3 separate regions of the Homo sapiens genome follow, and all the other regions are linked to region 3. The links come from fine-mapping of genetic effects on gene expression. A gene starts in region 3. Each other region holds a variant in brackets. All regions are shown on one strand. Distances are between the middles of the regions. Region 1 overlaps ST3GAL1 (ST3 beta-galactoside alpha-2,3-sialyltransferase 1). Region 2 overlaps ST3GAL1 (ST3 beta-galactoside alpha-2,3-sialyltransferase 1). Region 3 holds the start of ST3GAL1 (ST3 beta-galactoside alpha-2,3-sialyltransferase 1).

Evidence for each region. PIP is the estimated chance that this variant, and not a neighbour inherited with it, causes the effect.
Region 1: its variant is the best candidate, but not a certain one, in a credible set for the expression of ST3GAL1 in whole blood (TOPMed, PIP 0.83).
Region 2: its variant is the best candidate, but not a certain one, in a credible set for the expression of ST3GAL1 in blood mononuclear cells (TOPMed, PIP 0.68).

What each region holds. Positions count from the first base shown.
Region 1 is chr8:133,479,609-133,487,874 of GRCh38, forward strand. All of the region lies in intron 3 of ST3GAL1 (ST3 beta-galactoside alpha-2,3-sialyltransferase 1), which reads right to left. Among named protein-coding and RNA genes, the nearest start is that of ST3GAL1-DT, 87 kb to the right of the region's middle. RefSeq lists an enhancer at 3,034-3,083. The variant T/C (reference allele first, on the strand shown) is at 3,677.
Region 2 is chr8:133,467,345-133,475,344 of GRCh38, forward strand. The region is part of intron 5 of ST3GAL1 (ST3 beta-galactoside alpha-2,3-sialyltransferase 1); the gene reads right to left. Among named protein-coding and RNA genes, the nearest start is that of ST3GAL1-DT, 99 kb to the right of the region's middle. The variant C/T (reference allele first, on the strand shown) is at 3,464.
Region 3 is chr8:133,567,482-133,575,747 of GRCh38, forward strand. It overlaps ST3GAL1 (ST3 beta-galactoside alpha-2,3-sialyltransferase 1), which reads right to left and starts at 4,406. Exons shown (of 10, transcript NM_173344.3): 1 at 4,212-4,406. It overlaps ST3GAL1-DT (ST3GAL1 divergent transcript), which reads left to right and starts at 3,091. Exons shown (of 2, transcript NR_186509.1): 1 at 3,091-3,389; 2 at 3,577-6,375. RefSeq lists enhancers at 2,166-2,235, 2,193-3,046, 2,406-2,625 and silencers at 4,416-4,905, 5,096-5,155.

The DNA of each region.
Region 1 (8,266 bases), 88 kb before region 3:
TGAGAGGTCAGGTTTCCTACAATGTCCTGCCTCTGCGTGAGAGATATTAATGCTCTAGGCTGCTGCTAGGGATGGCGTGAGAGGCAGGGCAGAGGGCAAGGTTGTGCTGCACAGGTTGTGGGACTGTGACAGCCTCCTCTCCTCTGGGGCATCCTGCAGCCACACCTCCAAGGCCAGGGCACTCCCCATAACCATCAGAGGCTTCTGAGCTGGTATCATTTAGCGCTTTCCAAAGCCCTGGATAAAACTGCAATGGAAAAGCAAGAACACCGCTATACCCCTTCCCTGGCTGCAGGGAAGAAACCAGGACTGCATGTCTTCTCCGTGCTCTAGCAAGCGTGGGGCAGCCTGCAGGCATGGGGGAATGCCAGCCCTGGCTCCCGGAAATGACATCTGGGCCAAGACGCCACAGACCAAAGATCTCTGCATGTCAAGTGTGCGGTGAGGGAGGCCGGGCCCCCCAGAACAAGGAGAAAGAAGAGAGGGAGCAGGGAAGGATGGGGAAGGAGGGAAGCTGGCTCCCTGTCCTCTGCCAAATGGCAGTCATTTCCCAGCCACATGCTCAATACGAGGAGGCATGAAGCACCTGCACACAACAGAGCTTAGCGGGGTCACCAGCACAAGACTGACAAATGTCAGCACACTTTTGGGGACTGAAAAGTAAGAATTTCCCTAAGGAGAGTCCCTAATGAAGATAAACTCCTCTGGCAATAGGGAGTTGAGGGGCAATGACCAGAGACTGAGAGAACTGTGTGAAACTCCTGGAAACACAAATGAAGGAACCACACGGGGTTTTGAACCTGTAGTAAATACCCACTGAACGGGATGGTAGTAAATACCCATCACAGGCTGGGATGCCCTCCCAGCCCTTCACACAGCCCCTGGCACTATGGTCACTAGAGAAATGCCTGAGCGAACTGTGCAGGCTGTTGGCAAAATTGACGCTTTCAATACAGAGTGGCCACAACTTTCCTCATGTGATCCCCAAGCCACCAGGAGAGGTGGGTAACCCTTACGCTTGTCTCCCTGAAATGAAAAACTAAAACCCAGAGAAGGCAAGTGACTTATCCAAGGTCACACAGCAAAATGGTAGCAAAGGCAGACTCCTGCCTTCTCCTGTGGCTTTCTGTGTAGCCGTGGCTCATCATTCAATTCCATCAATACCTGCTCTTATCTTCCCTATCTTCCCCATTCCCTTTCTGATAACTTCTTTGGACTTGGTTTACTGTCATCTTTCCAGCCTTGTTTACTCCCCCTTCTTGCTGTGCCTACTCTATTTGAATTATGAATTCAGTTCTTCATTTCAGTGGTGTCTTTTAGTTCTGGAATTTCTACCTAATTTTTTGACAGGTTCTACTTTGCTGGTGAATTTCTCCACCTTGTCATCTATCTTTGTGCAATTTTATTCACCACAGCCGTCTTAAAGCCCACATTGGATATCCTGTGATACTTGGATAATGTGGGTGTATTTCTATTGTCTATTTTCTCGGTTGCTCTTTCTTTCTTTGGTTATTTGGTTCTGTCCTTGGCAGGCCTGGTTGCTGTTTGTATTGTGTATGACAAAAATGCAGAGGCTCTGGATGAGGCTGTCCTCCTTCAGAGAGGACCGGTTGTCTCCTGATGAGCAGGTACAGAAGTGGCACATTACTTTGTTCTAACTGCAGCTGTGTTTCACTTTTCATGAAGACTGGTCTATTTCTGGTTTACTCTTACCCCTGGGGCATAGCCGTTCTCAACAGGTAAACCAAGATGCTTATCAGGGTGACTCTTCCTTACAGGCTCCTATCTCCAATTTCTGTCTCCCCTGTACTATGAGATCACCGTAAGCTTAACTTTTTAGCCTTTCTTTTTTGTTTGTTTGGGTTTTTTTGTTGTTGTCATTGTTGTTGTTGTGTTTTTGGTTTTGAGATAGAGTCTTACTCTGTCGCCCAGGCTGGAGTGCAGTGGCCTGATCTTGGCTCACTATTACCTCCACCTCCTGGGTTCAAGTGATTCTCCTGCCTCAGCCTCCTAAGTAGCTGGGACTATGGGCACATGCCACCATGCCTGGCTAATTTTTGTATTTTTAGTAGAGACGAGGTTTCTCCATGTTGGTCAGGCTGGTCTCGAACTCTCGACCTCAGGCGATCCACCCACCTCGGCCTCCCAAAGTGCTGGGATTATAGGCATGAGCCACCATGCCCAGTCTTTTTAGCTTTTCATCTGCTGTTTTCTGCTTGGTTTCTTAGACTCTGGACCCATGAAACTTAAGTGCTGGCAAATGCCTTGAAAGGAAAATTTTAGAAGGCACAGAGCACATGTTCTTTTCTTTGTGGTTGTTTTTGCTCTAGGTTCTTGGTTCCTTGGGTTTTGGTTGACCTAGCAGTCCTGAACTCACTGACTCCCTCTACCTACCTACCTATCTCTGTTTTGTTTCCCCACCTTGCGAGACTGCCAAACACTCTGAACTGCTGCTCTCTGCTCGTCCTCTGAACCCTCTGCAAAAATCAGCACATACCTCGTGCAGAAAATGAGCAGGGAATATTGGGTTTCTCCCAACTTATTTCCTTTCTCTTGGGGGGTCTTCGCACCTCAAGTCCTGGCTGCTTTAGTTGTTCTCTAATGCCTTCAAAGAGCTGGATTTCAAGTTTTTCCAGCTTTTATAGTTCTCAGTGGGAGAAAAGATCTGGTACAAGCTTCTGCCATTGCCCAAAGTAGAAGTCACAGCATCTTTTCTTTGCCTTTCCATGTTCCTGTTCTTGGAGTGGTTGCCTGTATGTGTCACGGGCGTGGCAAATTCAGAGAAGAGGATGGGGCCCAGAGAGGCCCCAGAGGTGCCGAGGCAAACCTCCTCACACCAGCCAAGTGCACAGATGGTGGGAGGAAGAGGCAGATCTGCAGGCTGGAAAGTTGCAGCTGCAGCCATGGCAGCCACCACCTCCCTGCCCCACCCAAGCGGCCCCACTGCATCTGCTTTCACTTTATGTCAGAACCTCCTGCTCCCAGGCCAGCTCTGCACAGACAGTGAGATGACTTCCAATGCAACACATCCGGGGACTTCCCATTATTGAAAAACAGATCCTCCCATGTCCTGGCCTTTGGGATCCTGGCCGGCTGGCTTCATGTATGGGCACAGGGTGGGACCAAGTAAGACCTGACCAGTAAATCTTGGATACTTAATGGCCCTCAAACCTTCCAGTAAGAAGAATGACTCCTTTCTGAACTGCTGTCCGGCCCATGCCTGGTCACTGGACGCTTGGAACCCATTTATTCTGGTTTTGTGAAGAATTTCCTAGTGGATCATGGCCAACAGTTGTCAACAACAACAACAACAACAACAACAAAGGCATGAGAGACCTGCATGCAAATCCTGACTCTTCCCATTCCTGGCTGTGTGTTCATAGGCAAGGCACTTGCCCTCTCTGATCCTCAATTCCTGAATCTACAAAATAGGATTAAAAATGCTCACGCAGGCCGGGCATGGTGGCTCACGCCTGTAATCCCAGCACTTTGGGAGGCTGGGGTGGGCGGATCACTCGAGGTCAGGAGTTCGAGACCAGCCTGGCCAACATGGTGAAACCCTGTGTCTACTAAAAATACAAAAATTAGCCGGGTGTGGTGGCAGGCACCTGTAATCCCAGCTACTTAGGAGGCTGAGGCAGGAGAATCGCTTGAACCTGGGAGGTGGAGGTTGCAG[T/C]GAGCTGAGATTGCACCACTGCACTCCCGCCTGGCCGACAAAGTAAGACTCCATCTTAAACAAACAAACAAACAAAAATGCTCACACGAAGCGTTGCTGTGGGATAAATGGCCTTGCACAAAAGTGAACAGCTCAGTTCCCGCCACAGAGTAGATGACCACAAAGGTCAATTCTGTCTCTCCCCACTAAGCTTCAAGGTCCTCATTTGTAAACAAAAAGGAAAAAGTCCAGCAGAACCCTTGGCCTGTCCTACTCGCAGGGTTATTTAAAAGACCAAATGAAATCAGGCATCAAATCATGCAAACCAGTGGTATTACACAAATGATGATTCTGGCCGAATTCATTATTTGTGTGAATTCCTTGATGTGCTGAACAGCTAAATCTTCATGCTTTCTACTCCCGTGGCCAAGACCTCCCAGGACCTGCAGGAAGGAGCTCCTAACACACTGGGGGAAATGTCAGGGTTCCCAGGGGCTCCCAGACCCAGACTCTGCAACAGCCTTGCCTTGGGTCAGGAGGCAGCTGGTCCCAGAGGCTTATGTAGAGAGTCAGGCCCACCTGAGTTTGCCACCAGCTTTGATCTTCCCCAGGAAAAGGTTCCTCAAAATTGCTCTGGTAGCTCCAATTTTCCACTCTCCAATCAGTCTTTTTTCCCACACACTTGGAAACGCAGATGCATTGTCTTCTGAAGTATCCAAGATTTACACATCCGCAGGAAAGCCTGGCCACCTCACAACCTCCGACTGCCAGTCTTGAATTGGGGGTCATCTCTTTTTTTGCATTGTTTTTTATAGTTTGCCAAAACAGTCACAGCTGCCATCCATTTGACCCTTTCAGCAGCCCCATTCACTGGGTGGTGAACAGAATATGGGTATTGGGGGTCAGCCAGATCTGGGTTTGATTCCTAAATTTCCGACCTCCTAGCTGAGAGGTCTTGGGTAGGGACCTCGTCTACCTCATCAGGCTCAGGGCCTGCACCAGCAAGATGGGGAAAATCACATCTCTTCAAAGGTTCACATGAGAGTTAAGTGCATAAATGCTTCACATTTAACAGATGCTTAATACACGGGAGTTACCTTCACTGTCAACTTGCAGACAAGAAAACTGAGGCTGAGGGAGGGCAGGCACCTGGATTGAGTTAAAACAACTAGGAGATGGCAGAGCCAACTTGGACCAGGTCTTTTGTATCTTTGGGATCAATGTCTAAACGTTTCTTTCCTCCCTCCTTCCTTCCCTCCTTTCCTACACACTCTGTGCTCGGCATGGGTCCCCAGGAAGAAGATGCTGTCTCTGGAAGCTGAGTGTGTGGAACTTCCACATGGAACTCTCCCAGCGCAGTCCCTTGTGCCCCTGTGTTATTACAAGGGAGTGTGTCTGACCTCCACTTTAATCCCTCATTTGGAGAATCAGCCTAATAAGAAACCTGGGCCAAGTGAGTCAGAGCTAGAGGCACCTGGTTGGAAGCCTTGCTGGGCTTTAAAAAGCCCACCCCGCCCCAGGATTCCTGCCACCTGTCCATCCCCCTGAAGCTAAGGGGTACTCCTGGCCTGATACCGCTGACCCTGGGTGATGAGGCCTTCTCTTTGCTGATGTCCTTAACCCTCCCTGCTCCCTGGGTATCACGCACTGGGAATTGTGATGGGAGACTGTTCAGAAACATTTAAGAACTCAGCAAACTTGTAGCTATGATCAACGAATAAGGCTAGAAGCTAGAGTGGTATCTGCAATCCACATGGCTCAAATCCCATATTGAGAGTTGCATCAATCCTGCCTGCATTCGAGGGTTCTCAGGGCACCCTGTTTCTTGCTGCCAGCAGGGGTTCCTATGCTGGCCACTGTCTACAGGAGTGAGAGTTTGTTCCCACTCGCTGTGTGCTTCCCCTAACTGCAGGGGCTGGAAGCCTGGGAACTACATTTCCCAGCATCCCTGTCCATAGCGCTTTGGAAGTAGTTGAGATCTGACCAGTGATAGCTGGGACGGGCAGGTGGGCGAGGCAAGAGCCTTCCTTCCTCTGGCAGTGGTAGAAGCTGCTGTGTAGCTGCCCCAGAATCTGGACTCCAGAACCTGCCTTCTTCTACCTCCAGGCAGCGGGGCAGCTGCAGATTCTGCCCTGACTTCCTGAAGCTTCGTGGCCTGTGGGCCTCAACCTGAAGCATTGCAGCCCAAACCCTGGAGGTCCCCCATTCTCACTGCCCTTCCAAGAACTTCATAAGCACCTGGATCCCCGAATCAAATCCTCACGCTTCAAGCTGCTGCCTCACTTCAGTCCACAGATGTGGAAGCTGAGCTCAGAAACGGGAAGTGACTTTTCCAAGGATACACAGGAAAAGTGCACCAGGGCTAAAGAAAACCAGATGCCCAAGTCCCAAGACCCGCTTGACTCCTTAGAAAAAACCTGCTGTATTCTACAGGGTGGCTACCCCGGAGTAGGTGTTCTTCCCATTCCCAGGGGCAGGATCTTAGGAGGTGTCATGGGCTGCAACTGAAAAGAGAGGGTGGAGCTTTGGGGGGGATAGAAGGTCGGGAGTTGGTTTAGCTGCTGCCACAAGGGGTGGGGGGCTGTTTGCGGTGACCCCCAGGAAGTTACATGGGCTGCTGAGCCTCAAGTTCCTCATCCATAAAGCGGGGGTTAAAAACCATCCCTACTTGAGGTGACTGCACAGAGCAGTAATGTGTCAACACTGAGGACACCTACCATCACCTTTGTCTTTTCTATACTGTGTTCTAAGCACAATACCGGTGCACATTGGCTGGGCCCACAACAAGCTCCCGATGAAGGTACTGGGTATCATCTCCAGCTTTCAGAGCTGGGACAGAGGCCCACAGTGGTCAAGCCACCTACCCAAGGCCCTCGGCCGGTAGGTGTAAAGTCAGGATTACGGCCAATGCAGAATCCCAACTTCACACCTACTGGTGTGAAGTGGATGGTGCCAGGCTGAGGTCGGCCCCTGCCCTGGGCCTCCTTGCTGTCTGAGCTGTGGAAGAGGAACCAGCCTATCCCCACTCCATGGTGGCACTGTGAGCACTGAGTGGGCTTTGTGTGTGGCGCAGCTCAGGGCCTGGCAGGGGCGAGTGTGAGCCCTCCCTTCCCTTGTTTTGTTTTCTCCTTCCAGCTGGGCTCCACCCGCTCTGAGTCACCCCTGAAGCTGACAGCTGTGCTCTCATGGCCGAGCCAGGCCTGGACCCACTCAACGCCGCTCTCCTCCCCTGGGTCAGGAAGGATCAGCCGTGAGGGGAGCCAGACCCGTTTCCCTCCAGAAAACATCATCCAAGAGAAACAGGGCCACAGTGAGGTGAGGCCTGAGAGGAGGTCCTGGCCACTGCAAGGTAAACAGGTGATGACAAGCTCCCTGTCAATGGCAGGACTGGGGTGGACATTTCTCTCCTTATGTCGATTAAAAAAATCAGTCTCGAATGAAGCCAGCCAGCCAGCAACTGTGCTGCCCTGAGGCTCCCTGCGCCTCCCAGGAGAGGAGAGAACACCCACCCCCAACCCCAGGGACAGCAGCCACGGAGCACAGCGTGACTTGGGCCACTTCAGAAGCCGAGGCCAGTCAGCTCCTCATCTGTAAAATGCAACAATGATCCCAGCCCCTGCTCACCTAGACTTGGCTAATTGAACAAATTAATGACTATTGGTTAGTCCTGAGAGTCACTTTCTTACTTCTTTTTTATTGAGACGGAGTCTCGCTCTGTTGCCCAGGCTGGAGTGCAGTGGTGTCATCTTGGCTCACCATAACTTCTGCCTCCCGGATTCAAGCGATTCTCCTGCCTCAGCCTCTCGAGTAGCTGGGACTACAGATGTGCACCATGCCTGGTTCATTTTTGTATTTTTAGTAGGGACGGGGTTTTACTATGTTGGCCAGGCTGGTCTCGAACTCCTGACCTCGTGATCTGCCCACCTTGGCCTCCCAAAGTGCTGGGATTACAGGCATGAGCTACCACACCGTACAATCATGTTACTAATAATCTTGAATATTTAACACATATTGGAAACAATACTATTGGTATATATATATATATATAGTGCTTAGAACAATTCCTGACCATCACAAAAGAATATTTAACATTAACATTAACATTAGGAAAATGTCACCTACCCAGGATCATCATTCCTCTGAGAAATTCAGAACTGCATATGTGTGTGTGTGGATAATGGCTAGTGGGGTTGAAAATGAAGAAGAAATGGCATGTGTGAGTTTCACACCTACTACATGCAGACCCTTTACATACAGCATCTCACTTTGTCTTGGCAACATCTCTGACTTGGACACTGCCAAGCCCCTTTGTGGATTCTCGCTCTTGCTTTCATTCTTTCATTTGACAATTACTCACTGGGCTCCGGCCATCTAGCAGTTGCTGTCAAGTGCTGAACAAAACAAAAGTTAGACAAAGTAGAATGGCTGGGTGTGGTGGCTCATGCCTGTAATCCCAGCACTTTGGGAGGCTAAGGAGGGTGGATAACTTGAGGTAAGGAGTTCAAGACCAGCCCAGACAACATGGTGAAACCCTATCTATAAAAATACAAAAAAATTAGCTGGGTGTGGTGGCGGATGCCTGTAGTCCCAGCTACTCAGGAGGCTGAGGCA
Region 2 (8,000 bases), 100 kb before region 3:
TGCCTGTTGGTGCCTCAGCCTTCCTCACTCGTGGTAAACCCTGGAGAGATTTCATAAAAGTGTTGCATCTGACCTTGTCCCCATGCCACAGTGCTGTGTCATTTCACTGTGGGTGAGGTAGGATGCTCTGAGGCCAGAGAGGTAAGCAACTCATCCCAAATACAAACCAGGATTTGAACCCAGGCTTCTAGAAACCCACCAGCAGGTTTCTCCCACCACACAACCCTAACTCTGGCTCTTGGAATCTTGGCCTTTGGAAAGCCCAGACCCTGGATTTTGGGGTAGGGGTGATAAGCTGTGGGGTGATTCCCATCGGCTACTCCGGGCCCCAGGGGCAAGGGGTGGCTGGGAGAGGAAGGAGTGGCCAGCAGTGGCTTTGGCCACTGTCCAGAAGATGAGTGACCTGGGCATATGTAGGGAGATCCCGGGGCACCCAGTCCCCACTGCAATGGAAGGAATCGGATGCCCCAAGGGGAGGCACACAAGCAGAACCAGATTGCTCTTCCAGTTAAACCCAGGCAGCCTCTCCTCTGGCTTAAGACCGTTAGACACGTCATGGGAAGCAACATGATCTGGACCACACTTCACACCCACTGCTACAGTTATCATAAGTAAAAGGGCAAAACAACAGGTATCGGTGAGGATGTGGAGAAAATGGAACTCGTGCATTGCTGGTGGGGATGTAAAACCGTGCAGCCGAGGTAAAAACTGGGTGGTTTTTCAAAAGGTTAAACAGAACAGCCATGTGGCCTACCAGCTCCACTCCTACGTATATACCCCCAGAAATTGAAAGCAGGGTCTCAAGCAGATATTGGTATACCCATGTTCAAAGCAGCATTATTCATAATAGATAAAAGGTGGGAGCAACCCAGTCTCCAGCGATGGATGAATAAACAAACATAGTACGTTCCAGACATATGATGGGATATTATTTAGCTATAAAAAGAAAATTTTGAAATAGGTTACAACATGGATGGACCTTGAAAATACTAATATTATGATTAATGAAAGAAGCCAGACATAGAAGGAAAAATATTATATGATTCCACTTATGTGAGGTACCTAGAGTAGTCAAATTCATAGAGACAGAGAGTGGCAGCGTGGCTGTCAGGGGCTGGGAGGAGGAGGAGGTAAGGGGAAGTTACTGTTTAATGGGGACAGAGTTTTTGCTTGGGATGACAAAAATCTGCTAGTTATGGTTATAGATAATGGTGATTGTTACACACACTGTGAATATATTTAATGCTACTGAATCGTACACACACAAGTGGTGAAAATGATAAATATTATGAATATGTTGTCACACACACAGATGTGATATCCAGATAAAATGCCTGATTCTGATGGGATCATCCAGGGTGGCTCCATGATCCTGAATGTGCGGAAAACCCCCTGGAGGCTTGCTAAGGCACAGATCTTACTCAGTAGGTTTAAAGCTGGCCCCGAAATCCTGCATTTCTAACAGACTCCTGGGTGATGCTGCTGCCAGGGCTGGTGGGGGGACTACACTCTGAGAGCCCCAGGGTAGAGGACCACAGCCAGACTCCCCTGAACCTCCATGGAGGTCTCCAACTAGCAAGGGCTGCTGTGCCCCTTAGGCTTGTAAAGATGTGCCCAGGCCCAGGGGGTGGCCTTCCATCACGCCGCTACTTTGATTTGGGAGCCTGGCACCGTGTATCCATCATGCAGTGACATTTACTGAGTGTCTACTGGGTGCCACAGAGGCCTGAGAAGCCAGGACTCAAGCTCGGCCATGGACGTGTGTGGAGAGTATGCTGCCTGCTTCACACAGCACCACATCATCCTGCTGGACTCTGACTGACTTACTTTTCTTTAATGACTTATTTAAGAAAAATAAATTGATTGATTGATTGATTGATTTGATTTGATTTGATATGGAGTCTCACTCTATCGCCCAGGCTGGAATGCAGTGGTGCGATCTCGGCTCACTGCAACCTCTACCTCCTGGGTTCAAGGGATTCTCCTGCCTTAGCCTCCCAAGCAGCTGGGATTACAGGTGTGCACCACTGTGCCTGGCTAATTTTTGTATTTTTAGTAGAAACACGGTTTCACCATGTTGGCCAGGCTGGTCTCGAACTCCTGACCTCAGGTGATGAACCCGCCTCAGCCTCCCAAAGTGTTGGGATTATAGGTGTGAGCCACCATGCCTGGCCAAATAATAAAAATAAACTTATTAGAAAGGAAACCTCTCATCTCTACCACACGTAGAAAGCAAGAATTACCTGGCAGAAGTAAAATGGTAGTTGTACAATGCAATGAAAACAAAACTACTGTATTCGGTTGCAGCTCTACCCTGCTGCCTGCCCAGGCAAACTCTCCTCTCCCTTAGAACAAGGCTGACAAGCGCTGACAAGGTGCAAAGTAAGACACCAGGCCAAACTGAAGCCCCAGCACTGCAGAGACAGGTGGGAAGGAGGGACGGCAGAAATGACCTCCGGGCTCTGTGATGCGACTTTCTCTAGTGCCCTGCCTCACCTAACATCACAAGCCCCACGCTTCAGAAATCTCAGACCCATTCCAATCTTTCATTGGCAAAAGGGGAAATGGAGGCCCAGACCCTGGAAAGGGCTCACTTGAGGTCCCAGAGTGAGTGCAGGGCCAGGTAGAGCTCAGATGGGAAACTGGCTCTTTCTCTAGATTATCATAGTAAGTCCTCCCCACACCAGCTGAGATGGAGCAGGCAGGTTACTCCATGTGGCGTCACTGTTTTGGGAAAGAAATATTCTGGTTTTCTCTGCCTTTTGTCAGTGGCAATAAAAGAACAACAGTGCTGGCCAGGTGCGGTGGCTCACGCCTGTAATCCCAACACTTTGCGAGGCCAAGGCGGGTGGGTCACCTGTGGTCAGGAGTTTGAGACCAGCCTGACCAACATGGAGAAACCCGGTCTCTACTAAAAATACAAAATCAGCTGGGCGTGATGGTGCATGCCTGAAATCCCAGCTACTCAGGAGGCTGAGGCAGGAGAATCACTTGAACCCAGGAGGCGGAGGTTGTGGTGAGCCGAGATCACGCCATTGCACTCCAGCCTGGGCAACAAGAGAGAAACTCCATGCCAAAAAAAAAAAAAGTATGACAGTGCTACTGATATGAACACAGGACAGAGTGTTTGGAAGTTCAGGGACACGCCCTCTCCAGCCTTCCAGACTAGTTTCCAAGTATATACAATCAGCGCTCAATCTGCATACAATCAGCGCTCAATCAATGCCTGCCGCCTGGTGGCCTGAGCTCCTTGGGAAGCACGGGGCCTCGGGTCAGCTTCCCTGGAAGCAGAGGCTGGGGCACGGATGCAGGTGTCCATGGTGGGTGCTGTCTGGAGAGGGATGAGAAGCAAGGCAGGAGAAGGAAGGGGAGGTCTCCATGGAGTCAAGCACTGCAGGCTGGGGGCGAGGCGAGTGAGGAGTCGGGCAAGTGGGATAAGGAGGCCCACTCATGCCCAGGGGCA[C/T]GGCCCGAGAGCGGACATCTCCTTGAAGCTGGAGCCCTGGGTGCCTCACCTCACCCTGCACTCGGGCATGATCCACAGGAACTCTGGAGCCTGTGCTATGGCAGAGTTTGTCCTGTCTTGAGGCACGATGGCTGGAAGTCCTCCCTATCCACAGGCCACACCCGTCCCGAGAGTGTTGGGAAGAGGTACCCGCGCTCCCTTCCCATCCTCCTTCCTCCTTCCACGGCCAATGAATGATGCATCGCCTTCTGAGAAGCCTCCCTTGGACCCTGGAAATATCAGTCTCTGGCCTTCCACACATGGGTGGCACCACTGGGGCCTCACCGCAGGCCTCATTCCAATCCCCAGCTGCTGTTGGTTTCCCTGGCCCCTTTGGCATCCAAGCAGCAGACACAAGCATGCTAGGTAGTACAGGCTCAAGATATGTCCATTGAATAAGTGAATGACAACTGCTAAAGCTAACACACATTCATTCATTCAACTCATCACAACTGAGCCCCTATCACATCCCCGGTGCCGTGTGGGGTGGACAGGTGGGGTGGACAGGTTAGCGCCGGGACAGGCGGTGCTTAGAAATGGCTCGTGCAGGACTCAGATGGCTCACCCTGAGCAGAAGCGCATGTTCTATGGTTGCCCTATGCAGGACCCTGTGCTGATAACCTGATAGGCAGCTTCTCACTGAGTTTCTATAATGGTTCTATGAGAAAGGTGATCTTATAGACCTATTTTACAGGTGAGGAAACTGAGGCTTACAGAGGTGAAGTGAGTTTCCCAGGACCAAAACAGTTTGAATATCCTGGGCCTGACTCCAGACCATGTCCTTTAACTACAAGGGGATCTGACTGTGCCCTTTGACAGTGGGTGACCTGGTAAGTGCAAAGTGAGGACAATGAGATACCTACACCCTCCTGGTGGTGGGGGTGGTAAGGGCGAAGCAGTGGTACCTGGAAAGCTGGGCCCAGGACCTGGCCAGAGTTGGTGCTAGGCGCCGGGTGGACAGTATGATGGTATTATTTTGCATTTGGGCACTGGGCATGGATGTCTGGGATGGGAAGATGCCTTAGGAGGGCAGGGGGCGGAAATCAGGGGAGGGTCGCACTCTTTCTGTCCCTTGAGAATGTCCCCTGCGTATCACAAAACGGTTTCCCAAGTTGGGGGCAAGTAGAGAAGGCAGAGTCAGCATTCGACATGGCTTGTCTCTGAATTGGACATGGGGACTGGGGAAGAAGGAATCCCTGTTCCTGGGTGTCTGGGACAGAGACCCGAGGAGAGGGTCACAGGGGTCAGTAGGTCCAGCCTGGGATGGTGGTGCAGTCTCTTCACTTGCAGGGCACGGGGCTGATTTGTAAACTCAACTCAACTCAATTTAACTCAACTCAACTCAACTCAACTAAAAGAGTGAGCCCTGGTGACTGCTCCTGTGTCCCTGTTCCTGCCAGGGCTGGGACGAGCTGGAATTGTGATGCCCACTTGACTGAGGAGGACTATGAAGCTCAGGGCAGGATGGGAGCTCGGGACCTCACATTCTCACCTAAGATTCTTCCAACCCCCTCAACAGTATGGGGGAAATCGCCCCCATGATTAATTATCTCCCACCAGGTCCCTCCCACAACACGTGGGAATTGTGGGAGCTACAATTCAAGATGAGATTTGGGTGAAAGCCAAACCATATCATGACCCAAGTCCAGTTCCATTCATGAAATGGTCCTGCCTGCAGGGGGGCCTTTAAGCAGAGCAATGGCGCAGCCTGGAGTTCTCAGGATGGCTTTGTTGTCAGATATTCCATGCCTGTATCCCGATTCTTTATTCAAAGCGTGTGGTTTCCGTATTATCTGTGCATTTTTTAGAACCCCAAAGCTCTAAAGCCCTGCTCCTTTCTGTTGATTTCCAGAGGGTGAAGCCCCATTCCTTCCAAGTGGCTGCCCTGGGATCAGCCACCAGAGGCTAAACTTCAGAAAAAGACTGCAGAGAAGGGCTGCAGGTAGGGGAAGACATCTGGTAAATGGGAAACAACTAAGTGGAAATATATTCAGCCTTAATTAGTACTGAAAAAAAAAAAAAACCCACCTAAGTTCAGTATTACTTGCCCATTAAACCAACAAAAATAAATACAATTGTTAAAACTAATGTTTGCAGGGTTGTAGAGAACCTGGTGAAGTAACATTTCTCCCATGTAACACGAAGGAGGCTGAGACTCAGTGAGATGAAGAGCTTCTTCAAAGTCACTCCTGATGGGACCTACAAACTCTGCGACAAAACCTAGGAACGCTGATGCCAGGCCCCAGTTCCTAAGTCTACATTATAGCCTGTGTTCTTTGAAGACACATGGCTTATATCCAGAAGCTGATGTTTTTCCCTTACGCCTTTTTAACCCTCCTGGGCGACACCAGCCTAAGAGTTTTAGAAACCGCCCTCCCCAAGAAGAAAGATCGATACTGTCTTGGTGATACTCTCTAATAACAGTTTTTAATACGGTATTTCCAGAGGTTGGATTTGATGTTCTCTTTTGCAAAAGTCACCTAACTTTTCTGAGTTTCAGTTTCCTTGTCTGTAAAATGAGGACAAAGGCCCCCAAGTTTCTCCTTTACCTGCTGTTGTGTAAGGTCCCTTCCTGTTTGGTTTATATAAACAGGCTGTGTAGTACCCTGTTTGTCCCCAAAAGGCCTTTGTAAACAGAATCCCATGGTGACACTGAACATCACAGACTCCAGGCTCTGAAGAGGAAGTTTGGACTTAACGTGGTCCCAGCAACTGCTGCTACAGGGGGAATCAGATCCAGAGAGGAGATGGGATGTGTGTGAAGCCACCTCTGCCATCAATGTGTCATTTTCCCAACCCTGCTGGTTCTCAAGGGAGGGCAACTTTGTGCATGCATGTGCACCCACACACACGCACACCCCACCTGGGACACCTGACAATGTCTGGAGATCTTCTGGCTATCGCAACTGGGGATGGGGCACTCCTAGCATTTAGTAGGTAGAGACCAGTGATGCTGCTAAACATCCTGCAATGCACGGGGCAGCCCTTGTGACTAAGGCTGATCCTGCCCCACAAGTCCATAGTGCTGAGGCTGAGAGCAGACCCTAATCCTTACCATGCCTGGCTCGCCACCTCCTTCCCTAGACCCTTGGATCTTTGAAAGGGAAAAGACCCTACCTGCCCGGTTCTCTGTTACCTCCCCAGAGCCCACCCCAGGACCTGCACACAGTGGTGCTCAACACAGATTAGCAAACCAGGACTCAGCCAGGTCTTTGGAAGCATAGCCCAGGGCTTTTGACCTTTCTAAGTCTCACACATGTTTTCTGTTCATTTCAAATAGACCTTCCCCAGAATCTACCTGGATAACCTCTCTGAATCCTTCATGATGAACCTGGCCATCACTCCTGTAGGAAGCCTTCTGCGATAACCCCAGGCTCCAAGGGGAGTTGGACATGAAGACCATCGCTCCTGTGCCCACTTCCTGCACAGCACCTATGGTCCTGGCTTGAGTTTGTCTGTTTTCCCTTCTCTCCCCATCACTCCTGCAACCCAAGAAAGGAAAGACTCTATCTTTTCCATCTCAATGTAGTGATGCTTGGCATATAGTAGGTGCTCAATAAATAAGACATGAACACATATATCTTGCTCTTCTTCGATCTATTTTGCATTTAACATGGGAATGACCTTTCAAATGACAAGATCAGATCATGAAACCCCCTGACAAAAATTCTACAGTGATTTCCTGTTGCACTTACAAGAAATCCCAGAGTCCTCCCCTGGGTCTTGCTGACTCTCAGGCCTCGTCTCACTGCACCTCCCCTGATTTACAGCCCCCCAGCCATGCAGAGCTCCTCTACTCCCCATTACATCCAGCAGAGGCCACCCTCGGGCTCTTGCACCCGCTGTCCCAGACACCTGCAGTGCATGGTCCTGCTCTTCTCATGGCTGCTGCCTTCTCTGCCTGTGGGTCTCAACTTGAGTCCTGCTGTCTCAGAGACCTCCCTGGTGACCCCATTTACAGAAGCCCCCTCTAAGTTTCTATGACAAACCTCATTGGATCTGTCTTCAAAGCACTTCTGTGTGAGCCTACCTTGTTTATTTCTTATCTTCCCCTCCCAGCCAGAATAAAATTCCATGAGAATAAGGATCTCTCTCTCTTTTTGCATTTCAATAGCTGTAGTGGGTGAAATAGTGGCTCCCAAAAAGATACGTTCAAGTGCTAGTCACCGGAATCTGTGAGCATGACATTTGGAAAAAGCGCCTCTGTGGGTGAAATTGTTGAGGATCTCTGCATGAGATCATCCTGGATTAGGGTGGGCCCTAAACCTGATGACAGGTGTCCTCATAAGAAAAGGAGAGGGACATGTGAGACATAAAGGGATACAGGGAGGAAGGCCCTGTGGAAGTGGAGGCAGAGGCTGGACTGCTGCAGCTCTGAGCCCAGGAACGCCCAGCACTGCCGGCAGCTGGCAGGAGCCAGGAGCGGGCCTGGGGCGGCTTCCCCCTCAGAGCCTCCAGGAGGAGCCAAGTCTGCCCATAATTTGTTTTCAGACTTCTG
Region 3 (8,266 bases):
ACCAAAGTGATTTCTAAGGTCATGTTCAGCTTGTGGATGGGAAGCAAAACAGGCCCTGGTGAGATCACTGGGGTTCCTTCTGCAATATGTACCATTTGGGAGTCCCCACAGATGGCACCCTGGCTCTGTCAGGTTTCAGACCTCAGAGTCTGAAACTTCTGGGACTGCTTTCAAAATCTAGCGTTGAGAACTGCTAGAAAATGACTTTGCCAAGCGGGTGTGGGCTCCGAATGGTCCTGGCCACTCTTTGAGAGGGGAGATGCCCTTGGCATGGGGTAGTAGACAGTCCAGCTGCCCCAAGCCAGGGTTGTCTGTGATACCGGGAGGGTTTTGAGGATGATGCTGGCTGAAGCAAACATAAATCAGGTGGTGGCTGTCTTCACAAAGAGAAGCTTTTAATGGACCCTCAGTGACGGGCAGCAGAACTCTAAAGCCTTGCTCTCTTTTTTTTTTTTTTTTGAGACAGTCTCACTCTGTCGCCGAGACTGGAGTGCCATGGCACGATCTCAGCTCACTGCAATCTCCACCTCCCGGGTCCAAGTGATTCTCCTGCCTCAGCCTCCTGAGTAGCTGGGTACTACAGGAGCCCACCACTATGCCCGGCTAATTTTTGTATTTTCAGTAGAGGCAGGGTTTCACCACATTGGCCAGCTGGTCTCAAACTCCTGACCTCAAATGATCCACCCACCTCGGCCTCCCAAAGTGCTGGGATTACAGGCCTGAGCCACTGTGCCCAGCCAAGCCTCTTATTTTGAGAGTGAAACTGAGACCCAGAGCCTGGAATAGTTTGGGAGCCAAGTTGCAAAGTAACTGAGCGCTGCCACTGGGACTCAAATGCAGGCTCTCACAGGGCCCCGGTCTGGGCTCCTGTGACCAAATTAGAGCAGAAGAGAGCTCTCAGCTCCTCAGGTGTGCCAGCAGGGATGCTGAAGTTTCCACAAAGTCTACACAACGGAACGAAGCTGCATCTAAGTCTTATTCTAGAATTCTTTGTGACCGGGCCAGCTCTTCCATCAGCCTGTGGAGTGTATGCACACAGGCATGCAGAACTCACTGGAAAGCTTTTACAAGATGGCTGGTGGATTTTATTTTTTGCTTTCCTGGTCGCTTTTGGTGGTGTGGGAGGGGCCTAGAGTGAGGGTTAATGTTTAGATCCCTGGCCAAAGCTCTACCCAAATATAAACCCTTTGAGTCAGCAACCTTCTACACAGGAACTGACTCAAGCAAGGTTACCTGACCAGAAGCCTCAGAGTCACACATGGGAGAGGGCCCTTCCTTGGGTAATGTCAACTGCCTGCCTTTGGGTGGTGTCCTGGCTCGGGGGCTGCTTGGTGGGGAGGGGAGACAGAGATCTACCTCACCCCCAAAGACCCAGGACCTAGAAGGACTCCTTCCTGTCAAGCTCACAGACGACTTCATCCCCATAAGAAGGGCTTCCAGATCAGCGACAGCCAATGCTGTGAGCGCCACCAGGGAAGGGGGGCAGTACAGCCCTGATTACAATCAGCAAGAAGGCTGCTCAGAAGGCAGTTTCCGCCTGCTGCTGCAGAGCTTCGAGGAACAGACTCCACACTCCCTAAGAAACCCTCCTCTGCCATCACTTCTAGCAACGCTTCCTGTTTTTCTCTCTCACCCTGGGTGGGGTGCTGTGGCCTCCCAGCCAGGGAGGTAGGCAACAAAGGCCCTGCTCAAGCCCAGGTCCTGGCCTTGTCCAATCAGACTCTAAACAGCAAATGCCGGCCCAGAAAAATGCAGGGAAAGCAAACTTCAGGGTTTGTGGGATTTTGAAAAGGCAAGAGGAGAAGGAGCCCTCTATTCATTCTTTATTTAGCAAAAAGTGTACGATGGAACTTTTTTCCCTAGACCTGAAGTCAAGGTATACACATACACACATGTAGAGTATGAACTACCTATACATACACACATTCACTTAATTATATGTATTATCGCCACTCGCAATTATGCAGAACGTATTTTGGAGAATGTATTATTGGCCTCATTTTGCAGATATAGAAACTGAGACGCCGAGAGGTTAAGTCTGGCGACCAAAGAGAGACAGAGACAGAGAGACGGGAGACTAGAAGAGGCCCCACGCTGTACCCAGATATTGGCAGAGGCTGAGGGGCACGGAGTGGTGAACTCTAGTCAGTCATTTCAGCCAACCATGGGATTTCAGAAAACAGCCGGCAGGGGTCCTAATGTTTGGGGCAGGAAGGGGAGGTGCGGGAAGGCACTGAGGGACCCCCGCACTGGGCGCCCCTTCCCCACCGCAGAGACAAGCGGCAGTTTCCACAGCAGCCGGCAGGGGGCAGTGCACCTTGCCTTTTCGAAGCCTCTGGGCGCTTGGGCAGCGCGGGGTAAAGAAAATCAGGAGGCTCCGCCCGCAGCTTCTACGAACAGGCCAGGAGTAGAGCCCCCGCACGTAGTAGGTGCTCCAGGCACGTCTAGAAGCCTAAAGGGCTTGGTCGATACATTTGAACTCCATTTTAGAGACTGGAAGGGAAGAAGGGGGCGTCCGGGCCCCTGCCAGCACCTTCCACCTTGGGGCCTTGTCAATGAACACTGCGTTAGCACCTACGACGTGCCAGGCGCCCTGGCGACTATTGGAAAACCCGGCTCCCCTCTCACCCCGTTTTCCTCGTTGGCGAGTCGGCCTCGCCTCCTCCTCCCGTCTCTTCCTCTCACCACACACACCCAGCCGCAGAGCGGGGGTGGGCGCTCGCTGTCTCCCTGGAGAACCAGCTCGTCGCAAACTTGCGGGGCTTGGGGACCCGCGAGGGGGAGAAGTCGGGAGAGGCCAGGGGTGCCCGGAAACAATCACGAGAAAGCCGGGCGAATGCCTGATGCAGGGACGCGGCGAGCCAGTCACTGCCCTCAGGGTCACGGCTGACTCCCTCTGCGGGACTCGCCCAGCCCGCGAGACGCAGTGACCTGCCCAACCCCCACCCCCTTGCGCGCTTCTGGGTGCGCACGTGTCCCCTCGCCCAACACACCACCGAGCCCCGCGCATGGTACGGCCGCCGAGGACCCTAGCGTAGGAGGGAGGAGCGAGTCAGGGCTCCAGCTGACGAGCAGAGCCAGACGATCCCCACACGCTTCCTGGGAGACCCGGCTGCAAGGCCAGGCTAATGCGCGCTCCGACGTCTCTGTGCCAAGCCGGGGCGCAAGCTCAACCCCCATCTCAAGTTCAGCCGCGCTTCCTCCCGCAAGGTCACGCTTAAACACTCGCGCAGAGAAAGGAGGAGCGGAAAGTTGCGCCACCGTCCCGATTCCAAACTAACTGTACCCTCACCAGAGCGCCTCGCCCCAGGGTCACCGCTGTCCGTCCCCGTGCGCTCCCAGAAGGGGTGGCCCTGCCCCCACGCAGGTCACACACACGAGAGACACAGGCAAGTTGCTAACTTTTGTCAGATTATTTCTTGGGAGCTGCGACGCCTCACGGGGTTGGGGCGGATTCAGAGTTTCGAGTTGCCACTAACACGACTCCGGCCGTGCTCTCCTTGGCCCACCCGCGTCCCCCACTGTCCGCCACGCCGCGTTCAGCTCTCTTGTCCCGGGTGTCAACTTCACCCCCAGATCCGGAGCAGCGCGCTCTGACGGCGTCCCCGGGGCCGATAGCCACCTCCCGGATCTGCGCCTGCTTGCAGCGGATTGGGGGACTCGATCCGGATACTGTCCCACGGCCGCTCGTCCAGAACACTGGCGGCCTCCGCGGTGTCCCAGCCTGTGACCCCAAATCCGCTCGAGAGCGCCTGAGCCCGGCCACCCAGCGAGGTCTCCTCCCACGGGCGGCCCCAGCGGAGGAGATCCCAGCCCGGCGCCGGGTGCAATGTCACTGGGGCTGCTTTCGGGAACCGCTGCCCGGGACTTGGCGTAGGTTCCCCACAGAGCTCCAGGCAGCTCCTCCAGTGTCGGCCGAAGACCCCTAAGCCCGAACCTCCACCCCGACCTTCTTCCTCTCCCAAAGCCCTGGGTGGTCGCCGCTGCCAAGGAAGGGGTCTCCCTTCGAATGTCTTCCACTAGAATCCCGGGGTCTTCAGTCCCAGCTCCACTGTCACACCCTCCTAGTCCCCTCCCCACCCCTTCAGTTCCCGGGTCCAGACAATCAACCTTCCACTCCGAGAATCCACAGGAAACTGCCCGAGCCCCAACTCAGGCGGACGCAGCCCCCGCGCACCCCGAGCAGGGTTCGCCTCCGCGCGCGCACTCACCACGGCTGGAGACACGCTGGAGTTTCCGGGATTTGGGCATGAAGGGGTTCGGAGGAGAATACAGGGGTGTGGGTGTCCCGGACACTTGCCCCCTTCCCAGCTCACATCGCCTCTTCCTTCTCTCTCCGCTCTTCTTCCTCCTCCTCCTCCCTCCGGTCTAGGGCTCTTTGTCTTTGCAAAGTGTCGAAACTGTCTGGCATAGTGGGCTCCGCCGGCGGAGGCTGGAGCCGAGGAAGCGAGGAGGCGGGATGAGGGTGGGAGAGGGCTCGGGAACACCTTCCCCCGGGTGTAACGGGAGTGAAAGGCGGGGCGACCGAGGAGGGGCCGCCTTCCCTGGCCGGCCGGGGCCGGGTGCCAGGGCGCGCCAGAGCCCAGCCACCGCCTCCCCTGCGCGCGGCCCTCCCCTTCCTCCGCCCAGTGCCCGCCCCTCCCGACTCTGCGCCTCCGTTCGGCCCCGCCCACCCCAACTTGGCTCGGCTTTCCCTTGGCTCCGGGCTTCCTGCAAGCCGAATTTAGCTCTGCCAAGCCACGTGGACCGCAGCGGGCTCGGCAGAGGCCGAGCCTGGGAGACGCCGGAGGCGGCGGCTGCGGCGCGGGGACCTGATCGGCGCCCCGAGAGGAGCTCCCCGCTCTCTGGACGCGGCCCTCAAGCTGGCGGGGCTAAGGAAGAGCGCCCGGGAGGCCCGGGAGCCACTGGGGTCCGTTTCAGCAGGAAGACGGGCACGCACCGAGAGGATGGCAGTGCCCAGAAGAACTCGAGTCGGGGGCACGGTGGGGAGAAGGGGCCGATCCCCTGCTGGCGACCGGGCAGAGCCACCCACTTCCTCTAAGGGCGCGGGACTCGAGGTGGGATTTAGGGAGGGGGAAGGGAGGAGCGTGGGCTGGACGACTCTTGCGGCCAGAACCGCGTTCAGAGCCACAGAGCCGGGCACTGCGGCCGGCCCTGGTCCCGGCCCCGGCCCTGGCCCAGCCCTTGCCCTGGCTCGCCTGCCGCCGCTTTTTCCTTCCAGATGCGGAGGCTGCGGCTGGAGCTTGGGGTTTGCGGATTAGGCTTGCAGTTATTCAGCCCTCCCTCTTTTACAGGGAAGCGGGGGCGGTGGAGACTTCTTTTGCTGAAAGGCAGAGTGCAGCGCTTTGATGCTAAATGCAGTACACAAGTCATGTAAATCTGGTTTTACGGTTCTTAACCCCTTACTGAGACTACCTCTTTCGCAACTTTTCGGAGGAATGTTAGAGGAAAGAGGCACAGTTTGCCTTTGGGGTCATTGCATCCTTCCAGCGCCCCTTGCTCCAGCTGGAGAGAGATCAACCTTTTGCAGTGGAAGGGGAGAGTCCCCCAGCCTTTGTTTCATCAGACGGCTGCTGTAGTACAGGGATTCAGGCCAGGGCCCGCATGGCCGGACTTCTTGGTTCAAATCCTGCACTGCCACTCAACGGATGTGTGAGCTTGGGCTAGTGACTGAACCTCCCAGCCTAGGTGACTCTGTGCCTCGGTGTCCTCATCTGTGAGAACCGACCTAAGAAGTGTCTGTCTGATAAAGCTGTTGTGATGAGTTAGTGAATTCGTACACATAGAACCTTTAGAACTGTCTTTGACATGTAGTAAGTCAGCTGTGTAGATGGTGGGTTTCTCCAGTGTCAGGTCCCTGCCCACAGCAGGAAGATGACCTGTGCTAGAAGATGGGGGCTAGGGTGTTGGGGAAGACTTCAGGGACTTGGGAGAGAAAAGGAGAAATATTCAGAGATGAGAAAAGTAGAAGAAAAACCAGCTTTTAAAAGGGGGAGGAGAGAGAATGAGAAAAATAACTACTAGAAAGGGAAGGAAAAGATGAATAGCCTTTTAGGTACTTCGGGACCTGCTCTGAGACCTCTTGCCTGACGCCCTTGGTTTTTGATAGAATTCTAGAGAAGGGGTGAGCCCTTTTGTCTGCCTGGACACATCCTGTGGGCTTTCCTCTTTCTGAAACTCAGGTCAAGGTGTTCACTGCATCTCCAGATTGCTTGTGTGCATGGGAGGAGGGGGGCAGAGAGTTCTGCTTACATCGGCTACTGTCCCCTCCACCAGCAGCGTCTTCCAGCAAAGAAGAGCTTCTAACATGCACCAGACTTTTAGCTTTGGCTGGGAATATCGTCTGGGCCAATAAAGAGTTTTTGGATGAAATAACAAAAGTGTTGTTTATTGTATGGATCAAATAATGTATGGGAACATATTCGAAAAATAGAAAATGCTATACTCATATAAGACTATGCTACTATATCCTAGTAGATTCTGTGGAAAGAGGATCAGATTTGGCAAGTAAGGAGCCCCAGGTCATCCAGCTGTTGCACTTTGCAGCCAAGAACCAAAAGCAGCTCAGTTTTAGCTGAGTTCTTACTGTATGTATTCCACGTGCAATACTGGCAGTGCAGTAGTTTTGTTTATACCAGCATCACCACAAACATGTGAGTAATGCATTGAGTTGATGTTCTGATCACTAGGCACAGGAGTTTTTCAGCTACATTAATATATTGTGAGACCACTGTCTTACATGCATGTGGTCCATCATTGACCAAAATGTTATCCAATGCATGACTATATATGTGAATAGTGTAGATTGTATGGGTTCTGCCAAACAGTTCTGCTAACGCAAATCCCACCAAGATTCTCAGGGTTGGAGGGAGGCTTCAGGACCATGTCTTGGAAGTTCCCCTGGATGACTCCATAGTGAGATGGAAATTCCTTATTAATTGACATTGTGGTGAAACACACATAAATCACCACCTTATTTGAATAAAACATTGTACATCAGATGCATCTTTAGTTCATCTCTGAAGGGTTAACCTGGGCAAGGCCTTTTCTGAAAGCCCCACTTTCTTTCTGTTAAGTTTCTTCCCAGGTAACAGGGACAGCCTCTCCCTCTCCCTTTTTTTCCAGAGTTTTGACATTCCATGCAAGTAGCTCTCTTAACACCCCCTTTTAGGACCCTTGCCAGGGGCTGTGTGTCAGAAGTGTGTGCATGCATTCCTCTTTGTCACCCTGAGTGTATGTCCCATCACATCCTGCCAGAGAACAAGGATCATAGTCATTACTGGGAGTGTCTTCACAGTGGGTCTCCAGGGAGCGCTGACATTGATTTACTGCATGCTGCCACCTCCTACCTTTTGGAGCACCAGCAAAGCTCTCAGTAATGATGGTTAAGGAAATTGATTTCATCCTTTCCCTACCCCCGTTTCTTGGCACAGCAGAGTGGAAAGATCCTAATGGGTTCTGGTCCCATTTGGGTGATTGTGCAGAAAAGAAAAGGGCTGCACCACTTGTCAGAGATGAGTTCAGAGGTGCTGGGCACAGCACATGGTGTTTTGTGTTTTAGACAGTGTTTTCCTTAGGGCTCTTGGGACTGTGAGGAACTCACTCAAGTTTCTTTAGAAAAAAGAGTTTTAATGTAGAGATGTGCAGACTGAAGCTGAAAACAAGCTGCAAGGAGAGAGAGCCCATCTCTGTGTTTCTGTCTCCCTCCCGACCCCCACCGCTGCCCCCCCTCCCCCTCTCCGCTCTGTTCTCTCTCTGCCCACAGGCTTTCTCTGTTAAATCCTGGGGTCTGTTCTAAAGTTTTCTGCATGTTTATGGCCTCAGCCTTTCTGCATCCTGGCAATTGTGGAAATAATCTTTTCAGCTTCACTTCCCACTGTGGTTCCACCAGGTGTTTTAGTTTTTCCAGGAGAGGAATCTGACTGACAGGCCTCATCTACAGAGTCATGAATCACCAATCCAATACTGGATGGACTGCCCAGGCAGCCTGAGCTCATCCCATGAATGACTGTGCAGAAGGACAGTCCTCCAGGAGATGATGCATTAGAGGGAGTGTAGGAGACATGGTCCTGACTCTGAGAATCTTGGCAGGCATTTGAGTTAGTAAACTATTTGGCAGAACCCAGCCACACTTCTCACATGTACAGTCGTTCACTGAGTAATGACGTTTTGGTCAAAAAAGGAATGCGTATATGAGAGTGGTCCCCTCTGATGACACTGATAAATTCCTGTCACCTAGTGGTGTAGCTGGCATAACATCAACTCC